Linked DNA regions of Homo sapiens. The protein of the gene in region 1 interacts with the protein of each later gene in a pairwise test. Each region holds a gene or a part of one and is shown in the gene's direction. Other genes may lie near its edges. The genes, in order: ALDH3A1 and ZFTRAF1.

Region 1 (3,803 bases):
CACCCCCTGCCTCATGGAGCAGTGGTCCTTGCAGAAACTTACATGGGGGTAGGGGTGGGGACCACATGCACAGAAGACGTGTGGGGAGTCCCAGAAGGCTTCCTGGAGGGGGAGAGGTCTAGGCTGAGCTCTGTTTGCTGAGTGCGCATCACTGGGGAAGTGGTACTCCAAGCAGAGGCTGCAGAAAAAGCAGCTGTGGGACGTTCAGGACACAAGGAACTGTACTGGGTTCAGCCCTCTGATGGGGCAGGGCAATCTGAGTTCTGGAGAGCAGGCCCAGAGGGGAGAAGGGCCACCGCTGCTCGGGGTCTGGGGCAGAACCCGTATCTGCACCTCCTGACCCTAGCCAGGGCTCTGACCACCTCCATATCCCACATCTGTGGCCCCAGAGATGTAGGGGGGCCCGAGTAGCAGTGACACCTGGCTGTGCAGGACAAGGGCGTGATCAGGGAGCACGGAGGTTGCCCTCAACAGACGTCCTCTAGAAATTCCCCACCAGTCGCCGGTGAACATGATCAGGGCCATTGGGTCTGCTCGGTCCAGTGTCTAGAAGTGAGCAGACCGCTTGGGAGGACTCACTGGTGGCAAGGTCACAGCCGATGGCTTCTGCTGACCAGAGAGCTCAGGGGTCTGCAAAACGAGATGCAACTCCTGGGGAACCTTTTGGATTTAGTCCAGTCTGGGATTCTCACAGACGCATCGCCTGGGGGAAATTCATGAACAGTGGCCAGACCTGCGTGGCCCCTGACTACATCCTCTGTGACCCCTCGATCCAGAACCAAATTGTGGAGAAGCTCAAGAAGTCACTGAAAGTGAGTGTTGACCCCTTGGCAGGGTGGGATGAGAGGCTGTAAGGCACAAGGGGGGCCTGGCCCCTTAACCAACTTCTACAGATTTGGAAACACTGGATTTATTTTCTTCTAATATAAACATAATGCAAGCTAGGCATGGTGGCTCACACCGGTAATCCCAGCACTTTGGGAGGTAGAGAGTGGAGGATCACTTGAGGCCAGAAGTTTGAGACCAGCCTGGGTAACATAGCAAGATCCCATCTTTACAAAATATGTTTTTAAATTAGCCAAGCATGGTGGCATGGTGGTGCATGCCTGTTGTCTCAGCTACTTAGAAGGCTACGGCGAGGCTGGAGCATTGCTTGGGCCCAGGAGTTTGAGGCTGCAGTGAGCTATGATTGCACCACTGCACTCCAGCCTGGGCAACAGAACAAGACCCTGTCTCTAAGAGAAAAAAAAAAGATAATGCACACTCACTATAGATTATTTAGAAAAGATTAAAAAGCATAAAGAAGAAAAAAGCTCCACCCAGAATCCCACCACCCAAAGACAGACACTGCTGGCCTGTGTCTGTGCAGCCTTTGGGCAGGACGAGGCTCTGCGTCCTTACCCGAAGCCCCCACCTCTTCTCCACAGGAGTTCTACGGGGAAGATGCTAAGAAATCCCGGGACTATGGAAGAATCATTAGTGCCCGGCACTTCCAGAGGGTGATGGGCCTGATTGAGGGCCAGAAGGTGGCTTATGGGGGCACCGGGGATGCCGCCACTCGCTACATAGGTGCGTGACCCCTGAAGAGCACAGCCCACCTGCCCAGGCTGCAGGGGTCCCCAGCAAGTTCACAGCAAGTGGGCACAGATGCTTGATAAGCGGACACGACCTCGGGATGGGTATAAATTGCTTTCACCAGGGAGCCTGCGGTAGACTCCAGCAGGCAGGGGCTGAGGACAGCCCCTGCTTCAACCTCAGAATCCCCTCTCCCAGCAAAGGCCCAGAAAGAGGGGCCTCATCTCCCTGCCCCTCTGAAGCAGCAGGAGCAGGGACAGCAGAAGCCACAGGAGCCCCAGGTGTGCCCAGCCGTGAGGGGCCCCCAGTGCCCAGGCTGTGGGTCACCAGATGGGACCCTCTTGGCCCCGAGTTTGTCAAGGAGACAAGAGAATTCTGGCAGGGCATCAGGTGGCCGGCAGGTGCAGTGCCTGCTCCTGGAGACAGATCTCGGGTCCTTCCGTACAGGTTAACCTATAGTTGTCCCCAGTGGTCTGCTCAGATGGCATCCAGGACGCAGGTGCCTAGGGTACCTCTCTGAGGCCTCGTCCCTGCCCTTTTCCAAGCCTGGGCAGGTTTGCCTGGAAAAGGGTTGGAGCAGGGGTCTAGGTGCTTGCACTTTCCATCCGCGTGGGGGTCTCTGCGCCGTCCAACTCTGGCTTGTTTCCTGCCTCAGCCCCCACCATCCTCACGGACGTGGACCCCCAGTCCCCGGTGATGCAAGAGGAGATCTTCGGGCCTGTGCTGCCCATCGTGTGCGTGCGCAGCCTGGAGGAGGCCATCCAGTTCATCAACCAGCGTGAGAAGCCCCTGGCCCTCTACATGTTCTCCAGCAACGACAAGGTGGGTGGTGGGCCTGGGGTGCCCTCTGCCAGGGTCCTGGGGCCCACAGACCTGGGTTCAAACTGCAGCTTCACTGTTCTCTGGCTGTGTGACCTTGGGCAAGTCACTGGATCTTTCTGAGCTCCTTTCACCTCGTCTGTAAGATCAGGACAGCAGCATCACCTGAGGGCACTGAATGAGCGATCCTTGCCCAGGGCCCTGCACACAGGCATGGGGGCGGCTGCTGTCACTCTTTGCTCATGTGGTGCTGACAGCCACGCGGTCTGCAGGAAGAGCAGGAGATGGAGGCTAAGGCTCTGCCTCCACCTGCTCCTGTCCTTGTGGCTCCAGGCTATACCCAGGCAGGGTCGGGTTGGGGGCTGGGGCATCCTGTGGGCAGGAGACTGAGGCCAGTGGCTGGGTCCTGGTGCAGGTGATTAAGAAGATGATTGCAGAGACATCCAGTGGTGGGGTGGCGGCCAACGATGTCATCGTCCACATCACCTTGCACTCTCTGCCCTTCGGGGGCGTGGGTGAGTCTGGGGCTGAGCTTGCTGCCTCCCTCTGGGCCCCAGGGCTGGGCACACTCACCCAGCAAATTCAGGAGGGACCACCTCCTGCAGCCCGGGCGGCAGCCTCCCATTAGCCTCTTCCATTTGGACCTTGGCCTCTGCGTGCCATCCATCAGACACACTTAACCTGGGAGCCTAGAGGTTCCTAGAGGTCACCTGGTGCACCGGCCTATTTCATGGAGGCCTGAGAAAGGTGACCCAGGCCAGAGGTCACACAGCCATTTAGTGGCAGAGCTGGGATTAGACCCTTGCTGGGCACTCCCACAGTGTGGATGCCCTGGGGACACCCTAGACATTGGCCACCCTCAGGAGGCCCAGAAAAGGGCCACAACCTGGGGCTGGGTGCTGAGGGCCATAGGATTTGAGGGAAGGATGGGTGATGGTGGCTGGGGCTCTGCCTCCCTGTCCCTGTGGTTCTGGGATACACCCAACAAGGTGGAGAGGGAAACCTGGGGCGTCCTGGGGGCAGGATGCTGAGCCCTGTGCTTACTTCTCCTCCGCAGGGAACAGCGGCATGGGATCCTACCATGGCAAGAAGAGCTTCGAGACTTTCTCTCACCGCCGCTCTTGCCTGGTGAGGCCTCTGATGAATGATGAAGGCCTGAAGGTCAGATACCCCCCGAGCCCGGCCAAGGTGAGAGGGGGAAGGCGCTGTGGGGGAGACCGGGCTGTGCGGGACCAGGGCCTGGGGATCACTGCCCACTCCGTGTCCCTTTCACAGATGACCCAGCACTGAGGAGGGGTTGCTCCGCCTGGCCTGGCCATACTGTGTCCCATCGGAGTGCGGACCACCCTCACTGGCTCTCCTGGCCCTGGGAGAATCGCTCCTGCAGCCCCAGCCCAGCCCCACTCCTC
Region 2 (4,093 bases), on another chromosome or scaffold:
TGCCTGCACAGGATGGGGACAGGTGGGTTTTGCACCCAGTTGTTATCCGGACATGAGCCTAGCCTTCCAGTGCTCTTTGTGGCTGTGGGGGAGCCCCTTGAAGGGCCCAGGACAGCGTGTCCAACGCAGGACCTCAGGGAGCTTGGTGTGAGGGTACACTGCCCATGGCTACCCATCCAGTGGAGGCAGCCACCAAGTCTCCTGCAGTGAGGCTGTGCAGGACCACCACTGCCAAACAGAGGAGAGAACCACGCCATGGTGCGGGGCACACAGGCTCAAGCTTGCACTCTTCCTTCCCCTCTCTCTCCCTTTTTCTGCCTGTCTCCTTTCTCTCCACATGCTGCCACTCTGACCTCATCCTGGGGGGTGGGCTCACAGTTACGTGTGTCCTGCAGGAAGGGGTTCTTAGCTGGATGGAAGCCATATGGGAGGACAGCTTGTTGCAGCCTCCTGTTCGGGGCTCAGTCTGTGAGTGATGTACCTGCCTCCCCCAGGGTAACCCAGTGCAAGTACAAACGCATCGGCTGCCCATGGCACGGCCCCTTCCATGAGCTGACGGTGCACGAGGCTGCGTGCGCCCACCCGACCAAGACAGGCAGTGAGCTGATGGAGATCCTGGATGGGATGGACCAGAGCCACCGCAAGGAGATGCAGCTGTACAACAGCATCTTCAGCCTGCTCAGCTTCGAGAAGATTGGCTACACAGGTGAGGCGCCCCGCCGCCTGCTGCATGCCACACAGGTGTGGGTTGGGGGGCTGGCAGCCAGGAGTCTGGGGGCAGCAGGCTCTGGGCACTGGGCACTGACAGCGCCGGACAGCCGGGCTCTGGACAAGCTCCCGGTGGACAGGTGGACACCTCGGTCGAGAAGACAGGCCGGAGACTGAGTGGAAGGAGGGGCCGAGGCAGACCCCAGGTGCACACCTGTGTGGCTCTCACAGCAGCCCCGCCCACCTGTCCTCGCCACCCTGGCTTCACCATCCCTGCAAGGTGGCATCTCACTGTGGGGCTCCAGAGCCTCAAGACAGTCAGGGTCTAACCAGAAAGTGGGCAGGTCTCAGGGGGCCTGGGAGCTAGGGGCCTGCCCCTCGGACCCTGGGGCAAGAAGAGCACCCTGCCGAGTGAGGTCCTACCTGCAGGCAGTCACTGCCCCGGCCATGGGCCTCTCAAGGCTGGCACGAAGCCATTCAGGGAGAGGGCTCCACAACAAGCTGAGGGTGCCCGACTCAAACTGTAGAACCGGGAGTGGACACCCACAGACGCCCAGGCTGGATGCGTGCGCAGGCACACTGGATCTCGTGGCTCTCTGGGCCGCTGCCACCGCCTTTGAACGTGTCGGGGAGCAGGAGCCAGGCCAGAGCCTGGCCCAGAGGACAGCGAGAAGCACCTGTTGATGCTGGGGCCACTGGAGGAAGCTCCATCCCTCTACTCTCAGCCCACACCAGGCGGCCAGCTCAGAGCACCAGGCGTGGCGCAAGCAGGGTGGTCGTGGGCAGCCAGTCCCGCCCTGCTGCCTGGACTGTGCCCAGCGGGATGTGGGCCCGAGCAGGCCAGAGAGGCCGAGGGCCTGGGGTCTCTGCGGCAGCCACAGCCCGTGGTGAGTAGCAGCCTTAGCTGTCCTGGAGATACCGGGGCCTCGTGGAGTCTAGGCAGGCTGGGGCACTGTGGCTGTGGCCGTGGCCAGGTGAGAAGCCCCATTCGCGCAGGAAAGACTGGCCACCTGGGAACCCACGCCTCCACGGAGGGACTTGCCGGCCACAGGCTGTGGGCTGCCCAAGAGGACTGTGCAGGCAGGGCTGCCTGCTGATTGGCAGCTCCGGATCAGGCCCGGTGCCTGCAGACCTGGTGCTCCCCTCGGGCAGGGCTGGGTGCCGCAGCCGCCTGCTGGCTTTTCTGGCAGCTCCTCTGTATCAGAACCAATAAAGTGCACTTGTTCTCGGAACCGCATCCTGTCTGTGTGTCTGCTTACCCCGCCCTGGGGGACACCCGGGGCTCGGGGCGGTGAGGGAGGCCAGCGTGGGTCGGGCACGCCTGGGGTGTGGCCTGACACGTGCAGCCTCTGGACTCTCCAGCTAATCCATGTTGATTCTGTTTGTGGTTGTTCCCCTCAAAGCTTGTGTGCACCTCCATTTGCCATAGTTGCGTTTGGCTTGCTTGTGACAAGCAGAGCCCGGTGTCCGGGTAAGTTGCCTTCCTCCCCGGCTGAGCCTGCCCTCGGCCTGGTCAGGGAAGGCGTTGCTGCCCAGCCCTGCCCACACTAACAGCCGGCTCTTTCCGGCCCTGTCTGTCTCCACAGAGGTCCAGTTCCGGCCGTACCGCACAGACGACTTCATCACGCGCCTGTACTATGAGACGCCCAGGTTCACAGTGCTGAACCAGACGTGGGTCCTGAAGGCTCGAGTCAACGACTCGGAGCGTAACCCCAACCTGTCCTGCAAGCGTACGCTCTCCTTCCAGCTCCTCCTCAAGAGCAAGGTCACGGCACCGCTGGAGTGCTCCTTCCTGCTGCTCAAGGGCCCCTACGACGACGTGAGGATCAGCCCCGTCATCTACCACTTTGTCTTCACCAACGAGAGCAACGAGACGGACTACGTGCCACTGCCCATCATTGACTCCGTGGAGTGCAACAAGCTGCTGGCTGCCAAGAACATCAACCTGCGGCTCTTCCTGTTCCAGATACAGAAGTAGGGCGGGGCCTCAGGATGTCCGAGGAGCCCACGGGCGGCATCCCAGCACCGCTGCCCTGTCCACCTGGCTGGCAGCTGCTTCACAGGACTATCTGATCACTTTAGCAAAGGAGGAGAACAAACGAAGCCAACACAGGGCAAGTCTGCATGCGTGCGCGACGGGGCCCCCGCCTCCGGCTCACCCCCCCGACCCCTGCCTCCCCTCCTTCCGAGGGCCGCCAGAGGCTGGGCTGACCCGAAGAGGAGACGGTGCACCAGGCGCCCCGAGGCTCAGAGACGGTGGCAGCAAGGAGGCCGAGAGGCACAGCGACCCTGCCCCAGCCCTTCTGTGCAGTCAGGCGGCGGTGCTGCTCCATCCCTGCGGGTTCCGGCGGGGCGCGGGGGCCTTGCTGACATCAGACGGGATATCCGAATATCTGATAGCAATTAAAAGGCAGCCTTGTTTCGTACTTTCTGTTTTGTTCGAGGGGAAGGCATGGCTGTGAATGGACAGCGTGGGGGCTTTGGTTTGGCCTGGGGGTCAGAGCCTGCCCCGCCCCCATCTGTGTGCCCGCACACGTCCCCCGAGGAAAGACTCAGAGACACTGCCTCCCCCTACACTCTGTCATGGGGTCTTGAGACTGAGGCTTGGGCAGGAAGATCCAGGTAGGGTCGGGGCTGCCCTGGCCAACCGGCCGCTCCCAGGGAGACAGGACTCAGCCACCAGGGCTCAGCAGGCATTTTCCGAAAGCAGGGTGAAATTGTCTCTTCCCAGGAAAAAGATTAAACTCCTTGCAGGCTCTTGGATAAGTTACACAATTTTAGTGAGAAAGAGTCTATTTACTGTAGATTCAGCCTTGAGGGCCCAGCGTCCCCAGGCTGTGTGGAAAGCTTGGGTCAGTGCTTGGGCGCCTGGCTGGGTGAGAGTCTGAGGTGTGTCCCCCATGCTGCTCTCGGGGTCCTGCTGCTGGCCCTGCATTCAGGGCTCGCTGCAGAGGTCAGAGGTTGGGCAGCCCAGCTTCTCACCTGGAGGAGGTGGGCCCTTCCCATCCTCACCCTGGCCGCCCCCTGATGTGCCCCGTGGTGGCTGAGCAGGGCTGGCCTAACAGGATGGGAAGGAACCCTGCCTGGAGGGGTAATCCCTGGTCCTTTCTTCCCCTGGGACTCCCAGGGCTACTGGGAAGGATACAGCTTGACGCCCCCACCTTTGCTTAGGAGATGTGGCTCTTCCGTGATAGCTTTTTGTTGCTTCAATACCAAAGAACTGGTTTCCTCTGCTCCAGTCAGGTGCATTAACTTGCCTCACAGCAGCCCAACCCGCCCCCACTGGCTGCTGGGGCCTGGCCCACATTGTCCTGTGCTTTGCTGGTCACGGGTCGAGGGCTGAGAAATGGAGAGGAACTGGGGGCAGAATGTAAGCGCCATCATC

The links.
Region 2: the proteins of ALDH3A1 (region 1) and ZFTRAF1 interact in a two-hybrid assay, tested with the Homo sapiens proteins (one large-scale study listed by BioGRID).

Annotation. Positions count from the first base shown.
Region 1 is NC_000017.11:19,738,102-19,741,904, reverse strand, and holds part of ALDH3A1 (aldehyde dehydrogenase, dimeric NADP-preferring), read left to right. Parts: intron 1-694; coding exon 695-812; intron 813-1,427; coding exon 1,428-1,569; intron 1,570-2,230; coding exon 2,231-2,397; intron 2,398-2,809; coding exon 2,810-2,909; intron 2,910-3,451; coding exon 3,452-3,582; intron 3,583-3,669; coding exon 3,670-3,684; 3' UTR 3,685-3,803. UniProt on the Homo sapiens protein: ALDHs play a major role in the detoxification of alcohol-derived acetaldehyde. They are involved in the metabolism of corticosteroids, biogenic amines, neurotransmitters, and lipid peroxidation.
Region 2 is NC_000008.11:144,448,972-144,453,064, reverse strand, and holds the end of ZFTRAF1 (zinc finger TRAF-type-containing protein 1), read left to right. Parts: intron 1-494; coding exon 495-706; coding exon of another isoform or gene 707-885; exon of another isoform or gene 886-1,940; intron 1,941-2,294; coding exon 2,295-2,686; 3' UTR 2,687-3,483; downstream 3,484-4,093. Other genes in the region: TMEM276-ZFTRAF1 (uncharacterized protein LOC157542 isoform 1 precursor), read left to right, coding at 495-706, 2,295-2,686.